Linked DNA regions of Homo sapiens. The protein of the gene in region 1 interacts with the protein of each later gene in a pairwise test. Each region holds a gene or a part of one and is shown on either strand. Other genes may lie near its edges.

The links. The genes of interacting proteins can lie anywhere in the genome.
Region 2: the proteins of KLF10 (region 1) and TNS1 interact in a two-hybrid assay, tested with the Homo sapiens proteins (one large-scale study listed by BioGRID and IntAct).
Region 3: the proteins of KLF10 (region 1) and BOP1 interact in a two-hybrid assay, tested with the Homo sapiens proteins (one large-scale study listed by BioGRID and IntAct).
Region 4: the proteins of KLF10 (region 1) and CRIP2 interact in a two-hybrid assay, tested with the Homo sapiens proteins (one large-scale study listed by BioGRID and IntAct).

Annotation. Positions count from the first base shown.
Region 1 is NC_000008.11:102,652,198-102,657,778, forward strand, and holds the start of KLF10 (Krueppel-like factor 10), read right to left. Parts: upstream 3,529-5,581; 5' UTR 3,405-3,528; coding exon 3,369-3,404; intron 1,547-3,368; exon of another isoform or gene 1,276-1,546; coding exon of another isoform or gene 1,273-1,275; intron 201-1,272; coding exon 1-200.
Region 2 is NC_000002.12:217,798,399-217,802,074, reverse strand, and holds the end of TNS1 (tensin-1), read left to right. Parts: 3' UTR 1-2,284; downstream 2,285-3,676.
Region 3 is NC_000008.11:144,263,600-144,267,869, reverse strand, and holds part of BOP1 (ribosome biogenesis protein BOP1), read left to right. Parts: intron 1-689; coding exon of another isoform or gene 690-1,256; exon of another isoform or gene 1,257-1,417; intron 1,418-2,798; coding exon 2,799-2,953; intron 2,954-3,038; coding exon 3,039-3,156; intron 3,157-3,253; coding exon 3,254-3,355; intron 3,356-3,432; coding exon 3,433-3,645; intron 3,646-3,727; coding exon 3,728-3,889; intron 3,890-3,958; coding exon 3,959-4,039; intron 4,040-4,108; coding exon 4,109-4,178; intron 4,179-4,259; coding exon 4,260-4,270. Other genes in the region: SCX (basic helix-loop-helix transcription factor scleraxis), read right to left, coding at 690-1,256. UniProt on the Homo sapiens protein: Component of the PeBoW complex, which is required for maturation of 28S and 5.8S ribosomal RNAs and formation of the 60S ribosome.
Region 4 is NC_000014.9:105,472,994-105,478,512, forward strand, and holds the start of CRIP2 (cysteine-rich protein 2), read left to right. Parts: upstream 1-1,827; 5' UTR 1,828-1,869; coding exon 1,870-1,912; intron 1,913-2,865; exon of another isoform or gene 2,866-3,749; intron 3,750-4,249; exon of another isoform or gene 4,250-4,608; intron 4,609-5,272; coding exon 5,273-5,367; intron 5,368-5,456; coding exon 5,457-5,514; intron 5,515-5,519.

The DNA.
Region 1 (5,581 bases):
GGAAGCAGATTCTCTTCCTCTGACAAATCAGATACTGGTGTAACAGGTCTGTTTTCAACGTATTTCTTAAAATCAGACTTCCAACTGCAGCTCATTGACATAAGTGCTTCTACAGCTTCAAAATCACTTTTCTCTGCAGTTTTGTTCCAGGAATACATACTCTCTTTTGGCCTTTCAGAAATCATTTCCATTCTTTCCTCCTATAAAAACAAAAGAGGAAAGCTTATAAGCATATTTTTTGTCATCCAAATGACACACAGAAAAATGAGCAAATTTTTTTTTTTTTTTTTTTTACAACTCACACAACTTTCCAAATTAAAATCAGAAATAATTTTCCTCTCACACTTACTATGATACTAAGGAAGTTCAGCTACACTTGTTAGGTAGGTAACCCAAACCTCACAGTAGTGGCAATAAAATCTTCCTCATTTTTTCTGTTAACATTTAGACTTTAACACTGATAAAGCGATATCCGTTCATGGGAGAGAGGCACACCTACTACCATTAAGGGGACTAAGACGAAAATTATCAATGCATTTGTGATCCAAAAGGAGAAGTATTTGGCTAAGAAGAAAAGGAGTATTTTATATAGACTTTCCAGAGTAGCTACCTGCAACTGGAGTCGGGCAAAAAAACTAAGAGTGCGGCAAAAAATTTATCTTCTTAAATATTACAGGTATGGTATGAGGTCTTTTGAGGTACAAATTGCTGATAGAAAAAAAAAATAGCCAAAACCTTCTAATAAAGACAAAATGTAGTAGAGCTCTGGCCTGTTGTTATGGGTCTGACCTTTGGAAAGTCACTTTGCACTTTGGGATAAAAATCAAAAGATAAGGGATCCTCAGGGTATCTTTCAAGTTAAAATTGCATTATTTAAGATCTAAAATTTGATCACTTGATTATGGTAAAGAAAAATCAAGTGATATACATAGAAAAAAATTCTAATGTTTATTTTAATTAACTTTCAACCTCTTCATATTTGTGCTCCCTTTTACTGAATCTATTTGACACAATGGTTTGCCATACATAACTACAACATAGCTAATGCAATATTACTAAAAACTGGATAATCAAAAAATTTAATATTCTACTTGGAATTTGCAAAAACCGACTTTAAAAAGTCAGCATAATCAAAGTAGAATCTATTTTAATTCCTTAAAGAACTGCTTGATGACAAAATAACAGCACAGGTTTTGCACTTATTTGTAGAACTACCTAATGTTTTATAGTAAAGTTCTTTGAACTACGCTAAAAAAAAATGGTACTACTCACCATTTCTCCTATTTTCCATTAAAAGAAAACTGTCCAGACTCGTTTGGTCAAAGTAGAGATTGTGTAAAAATACCAAAAAACATTCTTTACGTTGCAAGGTATTATTCTCAATACTAGTTTTTCAAAAATGCATGATGCCTTCGTGTTGAAATCCTAAGAAAACGAGCCATTGCTCTTGAAATATCGCTAACAATATAATTGCATAATCGCGCCCGCCTTTATGTAAGCTGCAATGGACAGCGCGCGTGTGTGTAACAGCCCCAAGACGCCAATGCAAAAAAAGGAAAAAAGAAAGGCAGGCGGCAGGGAAAGAGAGCGTGAGCTGGGAAGGACAGGAAGGGAAACAGGGAGGGGAGGAAAGGGAGTGGGGCGCGAGGCAGGAAAGGGAAGCGCGGGCGGAGGCGCGGGCGGGGGAGGCAGACGAGGGGCGGGGGCGGACGGCGGGGGAGATCCTAGCTGGCGGAGACCGACGGATGGGGCCGCCCTAACCTCAATGAGGCTCACGGGTGAGTCACTGGGAACATTCCTCGCCGCTCGCACGTCCCCGCGCCCCTGCCCCCGCCATTGGCCGGCCGGCTCGGCGGCCCGAGCCCGGATTGGCTGTGCGGCCCGGGGCGGGGGCGTGGGCGAGGAGGGGGCGAGGCATGTGAACAAAGCGTGATCAGCGGCTGCTCCGGGAGGCGCAGGAAACGTGAACTGGGAATTGCCGCGCCGTCACCTTTCCCCTACTTCCTGAGCTTGCGGGCCCCCGCCCGCGCCCGACCCGGGGGAGGGGCCGCGGGCGCCGCCGCCAACCGCCCGGCCGTGCGCGCCGGGCCCGCGGGGAGGGGCGGGGCTGCGGGCGCCAGGCTCCGGGAGGCGCCCGCCCCTTCCAGCTCCCCGCGAGCCGCCGTTCCCTTAGGAACCGACAGCGGGGCCGGGCCTCGCTCCCGCCCCTGGCGGAGGCCGGGGCTGGGTCACTCGGGGACGAGAAGCTCCCCGGGCGCACCCGCTCCCGGCCCACCCCCGGCCTCCGCCTCAGATGCGGGAGGAGGAGCCAGGTCCCCGCGGAAACCCGGCCGCCGCCCTCCTCCCGCCGGCAGCCCCCGGGAACCCGGCCGAGCCCTCGGCACTTCCCGCCCACGCGGCCCACGGGACCTCAGACCACCCCGTCTCTCCCTGTAGACGCGGCGCCCCCTCCCCGTGGCTTCCGGCAGCTCCAGGCCCCTCCCGCCGCGCGTCTCCACGGGTTCCCAGACGTGCAGCCCCCACAGGCCCCGGCTCCAGACGCGCGGCCCCCGCGTCTCGCGGCCCAGCTCCCCCCGCCCACCTTCCCGCCCCAGCTGCTGGGTCCCGCTTCCCACCCTCCTGCCCCAGAGGCGGCTCCCCGCCTCTTCCAAGGAGTCGTCAGAAGGCGGCCACCTGCCCCTGGGGTAAGAGTCCCCCTCCAGACGTCTGGGGGAGCAACTCGTCCCCCAGGGCTGTCGGCGGGCCCTCGTGTCATCCCCCCGCTCCGACGACAGGCGCCCCTTCCCCCAGCCCCGAGCTATCTGCTGAGCAGCCCCCGTCTTCCAAGCGTGGGTTCAGACCCCCAGGATGGGTAGCCCACTCGCCTCTCCTGTGGACACCCCGCCTCCCGAGTGCTTGCGAGCAGCCCCTTCCTCCCCTGGCTCGCGTTCCTGAGCCAGACCGGGCATCTCTCCTCGGTACCAGGTGAGGGTAGCCCCCTTGTCCCTCCCGCGACTCTCGTTCCACACTGTACCCCAACCTCGCTGCAGGGCAACGGCCCCCTCCCCACTCCTCCCCCGCTCGTCATCCTCCTCCTCACCAGCCCTCTCGGGTCTCCATGCGGAGTTGTCCCTTCCCCTCAGTACATCTAGAGCAAGACCCCTGTCCCTGTCTGAAGATCCCAGCCCCCTGGTTCGACCCCCTCCCGAACACACACGCCCTCACTAATGCCCATAGTCTGCAGGCAGGAAGCCCTTTCCTTCCCCACGACTCCGCTGCAGCCCCAATTCTCAGGCATGGCTGATGTCCGGGGCTCGGGGTTCGCGCCCCCTTTGGCCCCCCAGACAAGACCAGGCGAGGAAGCACAGGGGCATCCCCAAATGACTTACCGCAGTCTGCTGGAGAGAGGCACCGAAGTTGAGCATGGTTGGCTGCTTGGCCGCCGGCGGCAAGCTGACTGGCTGCTAGGCTGCTGGCTGCTTGGCCACAGACGGGCGCACGGAGACACTCGACGCCGCTCCCGCCGCCGCCGCGCTCAGCGCCGTCTGCCCCCTCCCCATTCAGGTAGCCGCTCAGCCTGCCCCGCGCCGCGGGCGGGGGTGGGGGCGGAGCCTGAGGCCGGCCAATCAACGGCAAAGGTGTGTGAGGCGCCGGCCAATGGGCTCGCGGGGCCACGCGTGATCGGCGACTGCCCGGCAGCGTGAAGCTGGTGTCAGTGGAGCGTGTACACAATCCCCGGCAGCGTGTTCCCTCTGCCCTGCCCCGGGGAACTCCAGAGGCCACCTGATTGAGTGACGCCCCCCGCCCCTCGCCCACCCCTCGCCCACTCCTTGCCCCTCGTCCCCCGCCCCTGCCTAGAGAGGCGGTGCCGCGGCCGGGGAGGCGCGGCGACTGCAGCGCGCCCAGGCACTGCGGAGGGCCAGCCCCACGTGGGGGGTGGGGAGGGATGCCCGCTCCGCCCCGTCCCCTCCGCGCCGGGCCTCGTCTCAGCCCGCCACGGAGTGGGCGGGACGCCAGGCAGGCGGGGGACGCGGCGGCTGCCAGCCAAGGGGCCGGAGCCAAGAGATTTGCATTGGAAGCGCCATCCTCTTGCGCGTCTGATGAGGAAGCAGAACCCGGTGACCGACTGAGCTGCATTTCTGAAGCATTTGCTGGGTTTTGCCTCACTAAGCCTCGGGGAGCACTGGGGCGCGGGATGGGGGACCCTGTCACGGAGCCGACACCTGCTCGCGCGCCTCTCCCCCGCTCACGCCGTGCCGCGGGCTCGCCCTCCCCATCTGCAGCGCCCGCAGCGCCTGCCCGCCCCGCCCATCCTTCCTCCTGGGCAACCCAGAGGATGGCGTGAGGACTCCTGGAAGCCCAGAGGACCGGACCAGGGGCGTGGTGGGGAGCCGTAGACCCGAGTTTTTATCCTTCTCTGGCGCCGACACTCGGCTGCGGAATCGAGTTTGAGCTCGGTGTAGCTGAAGTTTAAATTGTAGCTGTTTCAAAGGTAGACCCCACCTCACCCCCACCCCTGGACCAAGACCTCTGGAAGCGTCCTGCCTGGAAGCCGCTTGTGGGGAGGGCTCTCCTAGGGTCTCCAGGCTCCCGCTGGAGCACGCCTGGAGGTGGGTTTGCCGGCCGTTCCCTGAAACTGGCACCACTACCGCCCCACCCACCCACTCCAGCTGGTGGGAGGCAGGCTGGGTTTCTGAAAGGAAGCCGCCCGTGTGCTGCGCCTGGGGGCTGGGGCTAGGCCTTCTGATCAGGAAAGCCCATGGCCCTGCTTTGGCACGGATTTGCCCCCGTTTGGCCGTTTGTGCGTGATCACAGCAGCTGTTGTTGGAGAGGAAGGCAGTGATAACGGGGCTTAAAGCAAATCGGAGATCTTATCCGATTTGGACAGGCTGAATTTAAGGCAAAAATCACTGTCTCTCCTTCGAGCACTCACGTCTCTGTAACTGAATGAAAGGCTGGTAATGCAAATAGCATTTCTATCCCAGTAATCACAGAATGAACACAGGAAGGGAATTAATTCTTTTAGAAACTGCCAATGCTATGCGTATCTTCCGATGGTTTTTTTCTAATGTATCTAAGGCCCAGGCTAGCGAACAACAGCAATAATAATGATAGTAATACTGTTGGCCAGGACCAGAGAGGCCCAGGGCTGCGGGGATGAGGAGGGAATGGCCTCCTGTCACCGCCCCTCCTGAGTCTGCTGGAGAGGCGCCAGCTCAGCAGCCCGGCAGCTCTTCCTGCCTCTCCCCACCCCATGTCCCTGCTTCTGTCTGCGGGGTGTCCCTCCCCACAGGTTTCCTTCCGCCTGGGCTGTCCCATCCTGTTGACCCAGCCTGAGGGCTGGAGCAGTTGGCCCTGGACACTGTGGCGGGAGAGGAAGCTCCTGTATGCCCCTCCGGCAGGCCTACCTTCCTTCCTGTCGGGCCCTCCCCTGGGGTGGCTTCTGCTAGACCCTCCAGGCCAGAACCCTGTCCCTTCCTCAGGAATGTGGGGCCTGCTGGCCTGGCTCCCCAGCGGGCTAAGAAGCAGGGAGCGGTCTTGACTTGTGAGAGTGATTCAAAACAGGAAAGAAAAGAGAAAAGGGGTAGGAGGAACAGTGTGG
Region 2 (3,676 bases), on another chromosome or scaffold:
GTCCACACTTGAGGCTGGGCGGTGTATCAGACCCTTCAAGCAGCCTGGCTGGGGCCCAGGACTGAGTCTGGGGTCAGCTTTCACGGTCGCTTTTCCCTTCCTCACCACCCACCACAGCCCACCTTGCATGCATGGCCAGCCCCTCCACTCCAGCCTGAGCCATGTGTGCCCCTGCGGGAGGACCCATTCATGCCAGAAAGCTGGTAACTCCCTCCCAGCATCCCTGCGGAAGGAGTCAGTTTCTGAGAGTGTGACTTTTCAAGGCGAATGATGGGGAAGGGTTCCCCAGTCCCCACAGTGGCCCCACCTCTGGGCCCTGCACCAGAGCCCTTCTGTGTCACGGCGGGCTGTGCACCCATGCACACACCTACGCACACACAACACTCCGCACTGCAGTATATTCTTGCCAAAGATTTCCTTTAAAAGCAAGCACTTTTACTAATTATTATTTTGTAAATGTTTATCTTCTTCTGTCTTCTCCCTCCCTGAATCTATTTTACTGTTGTTTATTGTTGAATCTGTGTGTCAGCCAGGAGAGCGCTGTCTGGCCTTGAACATGGGCTGGGATGGGAAAGGGTCTGGGAGAAGATGGGCAACAAAGAGCCAGGGAGTCATGGACATCGCAGCGACGCAGACCCCAGCAGGTTCAGTCCCGTGCTGCCACCAGCTGTCCAGCTGGGTGTCTGGAGGGAAGAGGGCAGAGGAGGGTCATGTCCCTTCAGCTGGGGGAGGGGCCCAGTGAGCTCCACGTGGCTTTTTCCCAAAGGGAGCAAGAGGGAAGGATTGGGCGAGAAAACAATGGAGAGGGGACCTGCGAAGGAAAACAGGGAGGAAGTGAGCGGTTTGATCAGCCTGCTATCACGGTGTTCTGGCTCTCTTATTTAGCCAGGCGCTTAAGGGACAGATACATCACATCCTAAGTTTGGGAAAGGCCTTTGACCCATGTCATCTGAGCGTCTCCTCCAGTAGCTCTGAAAGCTGTGGACACCAATGGCCAGGATTCCTTCTCCCCTGGTTTTTGAGGATCCCTGGGTCTTCTGAGACTGGCCAGGAGAGGGATGGTGGGGCCAGTGGTTGTGTGAAAGCAGGAGGGGCAGCCCTCCTGGACAAGTGTGATCCCCCTATAAACGGCTCTCAGGAGGTTAGTGAGTAGGAGATTCTGCCTTGTTCTGATGAGCCTGTGCAGGGGCTCCAGGGGAGCATGCTGTCCAGGGGGCACAGAAGGGTGGTGAGTGTGATCAAATCTAGTCTCACTCCCACTTTTTAGTCTCACTCCTACTTTTGTCCACCACCCCTGCCTCCTGGATCTTCTCCCACTTTTTTTTTCAGCTTTAGGACCTGGGGAGATCCTGTGAGTCAAGGCAGACACCCAATCCTGCCCCCACACTCGGGGTCCTCCAAGAGGTTGGGGGGCAGAGTCCCAGAGCAGCCCTTTACCCCAGGTCCAGGCCCTGGAATCCTGAGACTCGCGTTTCCTTGGCCAGTGGTAACACAGGACGTGTGTGCGCATGTGCAAGTGTGGATGTATGTGTGTGCGTGTGTTTTGCTCATTTCTTTAGGGAACTTGGGAGTCGGGGTTGGAGGTGCTGGGCAATGGAACTTCAAATTCAATGTCGCCCAGCAGTGAGGGGAGTCGGGAGGTGAGGCCTGTAGGCCAACCAATTGGTGGAGTCTCAGCGATAGCCCAGGTGAGAAGTGGTTCACCCAGAGGGGCAGGGTGGGGGCCTCGGGCAGATCTGTCCCTCTTGGCACCTCTGTCCTCAAATGTCCAAAATGTTGGAGGACCTCTGTTCATATCCCACGCCTGGGCTCTTGCCAGCAGTGGAGTTACTGTAGAGGGATGTCCCAAGCTTGTTTTCCAATCAGTGTTAAGCTGTTTGAAACTCTCCTGTGTCTGTGTTTTGTTTGTGCGTGTGTGTGAGAGCACATCAGTGTGTGCAGGCTGTGTTTCCCCATTTCTCTCCTCCCTTCAGACCCATCATTGAGAACAAATGTAAGAAATCCCTTCCCACCACCCTCCCTGCCTCCCAGGCCCTCTGCGGGGGAAACAAGATCACCCAGCATCCTTCCCCACCCCAGCTGTGTATTTATATAGATGGAAATATACTTTATATTTTGTATCATCGTGCCTATAGCCGCTGCCACCGTGTATAAATCCTGGTGTATGCTCCTTATCCTGGACATGAATGTATTGTACACTGACGCGTCCCCACTCCTGTACAGCTGCTTTGTTTCTTTGCAATGCATTGTATGGCTTTATAAATGATAAAGTTAAAGAAAACTCTGTGCCGTTATCTATCTGTGTTGTTCGGACAGGGGTCTGCCATGTCTCTGGTGGGCAAAAAGGGGCCTCTCCAGAGATCCAGGTGGGCTTCAGCGATGCCTCTAGTGGACAGCTCAAATCCTCCCAGCGGCCTCCCCACCATCTGCGTGGTGGTTCTGGTTCCCTGTGTTTATTCATTTGGACTCTTTCAGCTGCAAGAGAAACTCAACTCAAACTTGTTTAAGAAAAAGATAAGTTTCTTGGCCCGAGTGACTGAGAAGGCCAGGCCTAGCTGCATTTAAGGGCTCAAATGGTAGAATCTGGAATTCATCCCCATCACTTGGTTCTGAGTTGGCTTAACTTTCAGGTAAGCTGTATCTGAGTGGCGGTGCCCCCAGATGCTCTGGGCTTCCATCCCACCAGCTCGGTAGCTCTAGGAGAAAGGGGGGCTCTTTTCTCCCAATGTTCTCAGCAAGAAACTGGGACATGCGATCATTGGCTGTGATCTGGATCCTGCCTGGCTCATATGATTAACTCGAAACCAATCATTCTATCCGGATCTGGGTCACGCAACTGCCTCTGGAGCCTTCTGAAACTACGGGGACTGAGAATGGGGAAGTGGTTGATCCCGGAAGGAGTGAGGTCTGTCAGAGACAGGGGGAACACGGGTTGTCAGGCAACATCTATTGGGGCCTGTGCCCATCAAGTGGCAAATGTGTGGTTCACTCGTGCACTAGGCCCAGGGCTCCTGGGCAAATTCTTTGGAATTCAGAAAGTTTGGGGGTGGGACCTATTGAGACATGCCTAGCACAGCACAGGGGTCTCTGGGAGATCCAAAATACTCAGTGACGTGGTGCTAGCTCTCCACTGAGCTCACCATGTGGCTGGAGGAGGCTCAGATCAGCTTATTTGAGCAGGTTTGTGCTGAGCCCCCTCAGTGACCCTCACGGTCCTCGTGTGGGCAGCCTTCTCAAGCTTTTGGGTCTTGGGATTCCTTTACATTCTTAAAATTATTCAGGACCCCAAAGGGCTTTTGTTTAGAAGGATTATATCTTTTGATCTTTTACCATAGTATAAATTAAAACTGAGAACATTAAAAATACTTAATTCACTTCCATAGTGATAAATTCATCACATGTTAATATAGAGAGCATTTTTGTGAGAAATAATATTTTCTAAAACAAAAAGCACTGGGTGAGAAGGTGACTTTGCTTTGCATTATTATTATTATTATTTTTGAGACGGGGTCTTGCTCTGTCGCCCAGGCTGGAGTGTAGTGGCACAATCATAGCTCGCTATGACTAGCCTCCACCTCCTGGGTTCAAGTGATCCTCCCACCTCAGCCCCCAAGGAGCTGGGACCACAGGTGTGCGCCACCACACCTGGCTAATTTTTTAATTTTTTTTTTTGTAC
Region 3 (4,270 bases), about 42 Mb from region 1:
AGAGGAAATGGGGATTGGGAAAAGCCGTGCCGTATTTTCTCCCTGCTCACCCTGCTTTTCCGGTGCCACCAAGCACAGCAGGAGCTGTAAATCACAGCTGGCCAGCGTCTCCTGCAGGGGCCCTCACCCCCAGCCCCCACATCTCCTGCCAGCCTCTGCCTTCGTGTCCCATGGCCCACGTCTCGGGCAGCCCTACAGGACCTGGTGTCTTGGTGTGCGGCCTAGGTGGGGGACGGACAGCAGGTGCCCAAGATGGCTTAAGCCAGTGCTGGGCCGCAGGGGCTAAGAACCCGGGGTCCTTCCTCTCTTGCCTTGCAGCCTCTTACTTTCTGAACTCAGCTGTTTTCACTCCGCCTTTCAACTTACTGAAAAGGGAAGCTTGCAGCGGCCTGGTCCAGCTCCCCAGCCTCCCCGCCCTGGGTGGGCCCCTTTGGCCATCCCTAGCTCTTACCCCTCATGCAGCTCCCTGCAGGGGACTCCACACTCCACTGGGAGCCGAGTGTCCTAGGGACGCCCTGGAGAGGAGCCCCAGGAGAAGGCCCCAGCCCCCGGCAGGCCTGTGTTACAGGTGTGCCTGCCTGTGCCCTGTTGGGGAGCCCTGCCCGTGTGGCCTCGCCTCCTCTGCCTGGCAGGTGTGGGCTGAGGGGCGCGTTGGAGGCCCCCCTCGGCGCCCCACGGCCCGTGCTCACCAACTTTCTCTGGTTGCTGAGGCAGAAGGTGCAGATCTGTTTGGGCTGGGTGTTCTCGCCGTCGCGGGCGGGAGGCGGCGGGGGCGGCGGCGGGGGGCTGCCGGCGCGCGCCGCGTGGAAGAAGGCGGGCCCGGAGTGGCAGGGCTGTCCGTCGCCGCAGGCCTCGCCCGCCAGCAGCACGTTGCCCAGGTGCGAGATGTAGCTGGAGGCCAGGCGCAGCGTCTCAATCTTGGAGAGCTTGCGGTCGGCGGGCTCGGTGGGGATCAGCGTGCGCAGCGCCGTGAAGGCCGTGTTCACGCTGTTGGTGCGGTCTCGCTCGCGCGCGTTCGCCGTGTGCCGCTGCCGGGGCTCACGGCCTGGCCGGCCCCCTGGCCCCCCGCCCCCGGCCCGCCGGCCCCCCGCCCTCCGCCGGGCGCCCTGGAGGCCGCAGCGCGCCGCGTGCACGCGACAGGGTTTCTCGTCGGAGCCCGAGCTGTCGCTGCCGCGGTCCTCGTCCTCCGACAGCGGGCTCACCTCGGGGTACAGGTAGCGGCCCGGCGGCGCCGGGCGCAGCGTGGCGAAGGACATGGGGCCGGCGGGGGCGCGGCGTCAGCTCTGTCGCGCGCTGCTCATGCCGCCTCCTGCGGCCGCCGCGGGCCTCGCGGGCCGGCCGGGGCGAGGCGCGGGGTCTCGGCTGCGCCCCGCGGTGGCAGCTGCCGGGCGTCGCGCGCACATGTGCGTCCCGGGCCGGAGCGGGGCCCCGAGCTGCGCCTTTATAGCGGCGTCCCGGCCCCTCCCCCGCGCACGCCCCGCCCCTCTCAGCCCGGAGGCTCCTCGAGCAGCGCCCGCCGCGTCCCTCGGCCTTCTGTGGCCACGCTTTGGCGGGGGTGGGGGGGGCGGGGCTGGTCTTTGGGGGCATCGTTCCGTCTCTGGGGATGCGGAGGAACTGGGAGGTCGCTTCTGGGCTGTAGTTACTCAGGGCCCCAAAACTGCAGTGCCCCCCGTCCCCGGGAGAGGGGAGGAACCCACCACCCCGTTTTCTCCCGTGGCACAACTGAGTTAACCCAGCCGCCCTGGCCCTGCTGCCTGACCGCACCCTGTCTGTCTTTGCCTCCCATGTGCGCCAGCGCCTGCCTGTGCCAGGCCGTGTGCAGGGGGCGGGCACAGGCGAGTATTTAGGGGCCTAGAGCTCAGTCTCTCCGCCTGTCTGTCCTGCACCTGCCTCTCCAGGCTTGGCACAGACTGTGCCTTCTGCTAGCTGGCCATGTCCCCTGTTCTTGTGCTGTGTGGACCTCTCACCCCGTCGGTCTCCTTGCCCCTTCCTCCTTCCCCCGTTCCTCTCCAGGGCCACCAGGCCCCTCAGGAAGCACACACATACCCCCATTATCCAATTTGGGGATGGCCCCCTATCTCCATGGGGAGGAGAGGGAAGGACCCTCAGCAGGGGGCAGGGCCCAAGGGGTCCCTCCTGCAGCAGGGGGCCCGGCAGGCTCCCAGCTGTGCTCTGTCTTGCCTGGGCCCCTCCCCGTGGCTACTGTTGCAGGAAGCAGCCTCCTGGGCAGCGGTCCCCAGGCTGGAAGGAGCGAGGGTGGCGGCTGGCAGGGGCTGCAACCAGGAATGTACGTCCAGGAACGTGGCTGTTCTGCCTGGGGAGGGGCCGAGGGCAGACGGTGGGGGGTCCCCCACAGAGAGGTCTTGGCTTCTGCCTCTCTGTGGAATGGGTCAGTTGGGGTCTTCCCCGAGTCCCCGTCTTATAGCTGCCCACTTCTGCCTAAGGCCCCTGCCAGGGGAGGGAGCCCGTGGGTGATGAGGTCATCCCTGTCTGTGGCTGCCCAGAGCCCTGGCCAAGGAATCCAGTGAGGGGGGAGCTCTGGGGTTGGCACCACTTCAGTGGAAAATGTGAAGGTGCAGCTCCGGCGCCTCCGAGGGCGGGGGTGGGGGCAGCGTGGCCGCCATGCCACGTCAGACCCCAGGGCTGGGGAACAGGCGTAGGTCAGGGCCAGTGACCTCAGGGCACTTGAGGCTGGGCCTGCACTCCCCCTGCAACCCCCTCACCTGCTCCCCTGGGCGGCCCGAAGCGGGGGTGGGCCTTGTAGGATCAGATGCCGACATGGTGGCCCCCGGCTGCAGGACATCCGGAACACGGTGGGCAACGTGCCCTTGGAGTGGTACGATGACTTCCCCCACGTGGGCTACGACCTGGATGGCAGGCGCATCTACAAGCCCCTGCGGACCCGGGATGAGCTGGACCAGTTCCTGGACAAGATGGACGATCCTGACTACTGGTGAGGGCTGGTGGGGTGGGGCCAGCAGCCGGGGTGGGCCCGAGGGGTGGGGCAGGGCTGGCGGGGTCTGACTGGCGGTCTCCAGGCGCACCGTGCAGGACCCGATGACAGGGCGGGACCTGAGACTGACGGATGAGCAGGTGGCCCTGGTGCGGCGGCTGCAGAGTGGCCAGTTTGGGGATGTGGGCTTCAACCCCTATGAGGTAGGTGGCAGGGGCTGGCCCCTGGGCGGCGGGGGTCCTGGAGGCACCAGCAGGGCCTCAGCCACTCTGGCCCACACGCCCACATCTTCTCCCCCAGCCGGCTGTCGACTTCTTCAGCGGGGACGTCATGATCCACCCGGTGACCAACCGCCCGGCCGACAAGCGCAGCTTCATCCCCTCCCTGGTGGAGAAGGAGAAGGTGGGGCACACAGCCCCTGGGGCTTGGCCTGGGCTGACCGCCCCGCACTGCCCGTCCTGACCCGGCTGTCTATGCAGGTCTCTCGCATGGTGCACGCCATCAAGATGGGCTGGATCCAGCCTCGCCGGCCCCGAGACCCCACCCCCAGCTTCTATGACCTGTGGGCCCAGGAGGACCCCAACGCCGTGCTCGGGCGCCACAAGATGCACGTACCTGCTCCCAAGCTGGCCCTGCCAGGCCACGCCGAGTCGTACAACCCACCCCCTGAATACCTGCTCAGCGAGGAGGAGGTGGGCCTGCATCCTGGGGGCCGGGACCCTGTCCCCATGCTTCCCTGTGACCCTCCCCACCCCTGTGTCTTGGTCTCCACAGCGCTTGGCGTGGGAACAGCAGGAGCCAGGCGAGAGGAAGCTGAGCTTTTTGCCACGCAAGTTCCCGAGCCTGCGGGCCGTGCCTGCCTACGGACGCTTCATCCAGGAACGCTTCGAGCGCTGCCTTGACCTGTACCTGTGCCCACGGCAGCGCAAGATGAGGGTGTGTGGGGGTGGCACACCAGGGGGGTGGCACAGGGGGCAAGGCTGACCTGGCGCTCTCCTGCCCCAGGTGAATGTAGACCCTGAGGACCTCATCCCCAAGCTGCCTCGGCCGAGGGACCTGCAGCCCTTCCCCACGTGCCAGGCCCTGGTAAGTGGAGACTAGGGGGCTGGGGTTGCACCCTCCCAGTCTGACTCCTCACTGCCGCCGCCTCCTCAGGTCTACAGGGGCCACAGTGACCTTGTCCGGTGCCTCAGTGTCTCTCCTGGGGGCCAGTGGCTGGTTTCAGGTGGGTCCGAGCTGGGGGCAGCCTTGAGCTGGGGGGCAGGTGGGATGGCCAGGTGTTGAGAGCTGTCTCTGCCGCATCCAGGCTCTGACGAC
Region 4 (5,519 bases), on another chromosome or scaffold:
CAGAAGAGCCCTGTGTTCAGCCAGCCCTGTCCTCCAGAGCAAGCCCCACAGGTAGCAAGCCCCACAGGTAGCAAAGTCAGGGAGGGTAATGGCTTAGCCCCAGGCTCCCAAGCTGGGCAGAACAGGGCAGGGAGCTGGAGAGGGTTTGGCAGTGGGCCCATGAATCCAGCCTGGGCAAGGCCCTGCTGTGAGGGACCCCTAGGGACCCCTGGGCCTGCCAGGGAGGAAGGGCTGCCCAGAAAAGGTACTGACTGATGCCTCCTCACCATCTTCTGCCTTGGCTGGCACAGGTCCCAAGTGCAGAGGGGGAGCTGGTCAGGCTGGTCAGTCGGGCGGGGGGGCGGGGGGCATGTTTCTGGCCTGCTGTCACCATGGAAATGGCAGTGGCTGCAGGGTGTGTGTGCAAGGGAGGAGGGTGCTGCCACAGAGAGCCCAGCCAGGACCACCATGAAAGCCAGGAGCACCGAGGGCCTCTGGTTGGCTCACAAACATGCCTGGTGCACCAGGCAGAGGGAACAGGTAGGTCTCCGTGTCCAGCCCACAGCCTCCAAGACACAGGGGGAAGGGTGTCCAGAGTCAGCTGCCCCCATAGGGCCTGATCACTGGGCTTCTGGGATCTGCCTGTCTCCCAGGCCGACGCTCAGCTGGGGCCAGAAGGCTCAGAGAAGGGCCCATGGGGACAGAGCACCAGGAAGCCCGTGGGTGCGGAGGTTCCCCACCTGGGGCCAGGCTCTACGGGGCTCTAGGGCGGAGGCACTGTGGTGAGGCGTGGTCAGGCACGCCCTGGTTGGGAGGAGGCCAGAGTGGGGGTGTGGGGGTGCGGTGACTGGCATGACCCCTCAATCTCCCGCCTGACCCCTCGAGGTCAGGCCCTGGGCCCCCAGGCACGCAGCTGGTCCTGGGCGGTGCGGGAGAAGGGACTGGAGTGTCAGCCCCAGCCCGGGGCACAGAGGGCACGCCCACTCCTTCCCCTCCTTCCCTTCCTAACTCCTCACCGCCTCCCCGGCCGCCCCCTGGGTGGAAGTGCTTGGGGTGGACGCCTTAAGCGCGGATCCCTCGGCGCTGGTGCCCGCCGCCCCTTCCCTGCCTGGGAGGCAGACGCAGACCTCCCCACACCCCCTACCAGCAGCTTCTCGAGCTGTTTCTGGAGGTGGCGGCGCCTTCCTTCCTGAGCCCTGCCCTCCACCCAAGGAGCCTTCAGCACCACAGACAGTGTTGGGGCGGGGCGCGGGCGGGGGCGGAGCGGGACATGGAGACCCGGACAGGGCTGGGGGCCGTGCCCGCCGGGAATCTGACTCCGCTCCCGCGGCGCGGCTGTTGCTATGGAAACCGAGCAACAAAGGGAAGCGGGACAGGCGCCGCGCGCGGCGGGGTGGGGGTGGGGTTCTCCCGGAGCCTGCGACCCCTTCCCGCGGCGGAGCGCAGCCTGGGCGCCCAGGGCCGGGAGTGTTGGACCCCTAGGCCCAAGTCACTAGGGCTCCCCGAGAGCCGAGGGCCAGGCTCCCCGCACCCTGCCCGCCGCCCCGGGGACGGCCCGGCCAGGCGGCCCCGACGTCGCCATGGAAACAGCCGGGGCGCGGGCGGCGCCGCGGTCGCCCGGGCGGGCCCCTGTAGACGCCACCTCCGGCGCGAGGGGCCCGGGGGCGCCAGGCCTGGCCCGGCTGCCCCGCACCCGCCACCCCCGGCAGGTGCGCCCCGCCCCCGCGGCGCCCCCAGGCGGCCCCCAGCCCGGGGGACGGGTTATCGAGGCCCCGCCCCGGCCGCGGAGCCAATGGGCGCGCGGACAGCCGGGCAGGCGGGGCTGGGCGCGGGCGGCGGCGGCCCGGAGGAGAACGGGCGGAGGGCGCGGGCCGACCGGGCGCACCGACCATGGCCTCCAAATGCCCCAAGTGCGACAAGACCGTGTACTTCGGTGAGTGCGTGCCCGCTCCCGGCCCGCTCGGTGCATCCCGCCGCCCTTCGCGGCCAGTCCCGCGCCGCAGAGCCGCGGCGTAACTCGGGGTGCGCCCGGCCCCGGCCCCGGACCGAGGATGCGCGTCCCGGAGGCTGGCTGGCCGCGCTGCCCAAGCGGCTAAAGCCAAAGGGTGGGGCTGCGCGAAAGCGGGGGCGGTCACGCCCGAACCCCGAAGCGGCTTGTGGGGGCGGGGCAGGGACCACCCGGGCGGGGCTTGTGGTGCCCCGGGATGAGGCCAGTGTTTGGGGGAGCGCTCGGGGATCCGCGGACGCATCCCGGTTCCTCGGACGGCGCCGGGCGGGGCGGGGCAGGGCGTGGCTGTACGCCCCGGGTGCGTCCCGCGCGCTCCCGTGGGCCTGGGCCCTTTCTCCTGGACCCCCTACACCCGCTTCCCCCGGGAACAAGTGGCCGGGAACAGTGACCCCCAGCTCCCACTCCGGGCTCCGCTGAGCTGGGCTGGGCCAGGTTTGGACTCTGTCGGGATTCAGTCCAAGCGGGGGCGACCTTGGCCTCTGCCTCCTGCTTGTCCCGACGCATTCCCTTGGCGCCAGTTCCCCCAGGAGTTTCACACGGGGGTAGGGTGGGGGCGGGTGTGACACGCGAGTTCCCGCGAACGTGAGAGGGACCTTGTGCTCAAGCAGCCCAGGTGTCCAGGATCCCTGCCTCCTCAAGGTCAGAACAGCCCTGGACAGGATGCAGGTGGTGGCGGGAAGAGGGATGTCTCGCAAGGCGGCCCTCGGTCTAGCCCCTCCGGCAGGCGCGCTCCCCCCGTCTGGGCTTACTCACTCTCTGGGCCTGGGTGCGCCCTTCCTACCCCCTTCCTCCTGGCTGATTCGCTGCCCAGCTTTCTCCAGGGTGGTAAGGTCCCTGCCCACCTACCCACCAGCTGCTGCACGAAGGGGGGCAGACTTAGTGAAGCAGAGAGGAGGGCCGGGACCAACAGGGCGCCTGCCCTGGTCGCCCCATACCCAGAATGCGGCCAGGCTGCAGGGAAGGCCGCCACTGGGCTTCCCCGGCTCACAGGCTGGAGGGGGTTGAGGGGAGGTTGTATTTTGCCCGTCCCAGAGGGGAGGGACCGGATTTGGCCTGGAGTGCTTCTGGCGTGGCTGGGAGCCGAGGGGCTTCCGGCTGCCTCTCCTGGAGCCCGCTCAGCCCTCAGTCTCTGTCCCAGCGAGGGCTGTCTCTGTAAGGCTTAGGGTGGGAGACGGTCCCCAGGGCCCTTCTGCAGTCCAACTGCCCATGACTTTACCCCAGGCCGGGCCAGGCCAGCCTGGGGCTCTCCAGGGTCTCGGCCAACAGTCCTGTGGACAGCCCGGAAAGGCCTGCCTGCCTGGCCCGCCCAGCCTCTCAGCGGAAAACAAAGGCGCTTCAGACCCGGCTGGCTTCTGTCCTGCCTGGGAGGCACTGTGAGGGCGAGGGTCCAGAATCCTGCCCACCCTCACACCAGGCTGCCCCCGCAGCTCATACCTGAGTAGAACCCAGGCTGGGATGTCGGAGCACATTGAGGAGGCCACCCCAGAGCCCATGCAGCCAGGGTGGGCAGCTGGTTTTCTTCTGAGCCATTAGACCCAATCGATTCTGTGTTCCCAACTCGGACCCGTAATGTGTGGCCATTGACCCACCCAGTGGGTCTGAGGGCCAGTTCCCTGCCCCCACTTGGCCCACGTCCCAGAGCTGGCCAGAGCACAGTGCTGGCAGCCCTGGGCTGCAGCTGCCACGGCCGATAGCCACCGAGACTTCCTTGCTGCTGCTGGGACACGCCTGCCCACCGTGCAGCCAGCCCCTGCCTGCCCTGGTGTGTCCCAGCTTCCTTGAGTGGAGTGGTTCTGGTCAGAGGGCTCTAAGCTGGTGCAGCCTTGTGGTTGGGCTGGTGTCCTGGAGGCTGGCCCTGGCCATGCCCAGAGGGTTGTACCAGGGCCACGGAGAGCCAGTATTCACAGCCCTCTACCTAGTAGGCCACCTGGGGGATCCCATCTCACTGCCAGGAGCAGCACCCTTGGGCCTCTCAGAGTGGGCTTCGCCCTAGCCAGATGCCCCTCCCCGATATCTGCCAGACAAAGGGGGCTGGGCCACTTGCTGAGAAAGGGAGCTGGGAGAGCCACTGGTCCTCGGCCACCTGAGGGGCTTGGCCAGATTCTGCCGGGCAGGGTGGGCCCAGCCTGCATGCTCCCTCCCCCCAGGGCCTGCAGCTTGTCCCCTTCCCTTCAGAATTCCGGCTCTGCTGGGCCCTTCCTGCCCCTCCCCACCTCTTCCTGCCTGGCTCCCTAGGGAGGCCCCTGCTTCCATCCACTGGGAAGCAGTCCAGTAGCCCCAGTGTGGGGGTGGGAGGCAGTGGCAGAGGGTCCCGGACCCTCAGCAGCTGCCCTCAGATCTTCCATGCCAGTGGCAGCCAGGGGCATTACGGCGGGGGGAGAGCTCAGGGTTTAGGACGAGGAATCCACAGACAGATGAGGGTCCCGCCTGGAGGACCCACGGGGACGGGGCCTGGCCTTCCCATGAGGGAGCTGGAGGTTCTGGGGCTGCACCTTTGACTCAGCAGCGGGGTGCTGCCAGCCCCATCAGGGCCCAGTTGGTGGGGATCAGGGGCGTGTCAGTGCGAGGCAGGTGTGAGAGGGAGAGCAGCATGTGTTGAAGCAGGTGCACTGCAGAGGCAGGTGTGTGAGTGTAAGAGAAGTGTTTGAGGGAATGACAGGTGGGGGAGATGCATATGTGTGGGGGGAGGCAGGTGTGTGGGGGGAAGCGGGTGTGTGTCTGAGGAAGCGGGTGTGTGTGGGGGGAAGCGGGTGTGTGGAGGCGGGCGTGTGGGGGAGGCGGGTGTGTGTGTGAGAGGAAGGTGTGTGGGAGGAGGCAGATTTGTGGGGGGAGGCGGGCGTGTGGGGGAGGCGGGTGTGAGGCGGGTGTCCGGGAGGCAGGTGTTGGAGCGCGGGCAGGTGTTGGAGCGCGGGCAGGTGTTGGAGCGCGGGCAGGTGTTGGAGCGCGGGCAGGTGTTGGAGCGCGGGCAGGCTCGAGCACAGGCCCCTTCACCGCAGGCACTGAGGGGACTAACAGGGCAGCCCCGGGCCCCTTCTCAAAGGCGGCTCTAGCGGGGTTCCAGGGCTGGGGGCGCTGAGACCCAGAGGGAGAACAGGGCCTGGGGGCGACGGGCTCCTCCGGGTCTCAGAAGGAGGGGCAGGGCCCGCCAGGTGGAAGGAAGGCGCCTGGGAGACCTCCTGAAAGTGGGGACCCCCGGAGCGCGTGGGGGTGGTGGCTGCCAGGTGGGGGCGGAGGGGGTGCGGGGCGCGCCCCGGCCCTGACCCCCCTGCCGCCCCTCCCGCTCAGCCGAGAAGGTGAGCTCCCTGGGGAAGGACTGGCACAAGTTCTGCCTCAAGTGCGAGCGCTGCAGCAAGACGCTGACGCCCGGGGGCCACGCCGAGGTGAGCCCCACTGCGCGGCGCGGGCGGGGGCGGGGGTCGCGACTCCCGCCACCCTCAGGCAGGGTCCTGACCCGCGCCCCTCTGCGCAGCATGACGGGAAGCCGTTCTGCCACAAGCCGTGCTACGCCACCCTGTTCGGACCCAAAGGTGAG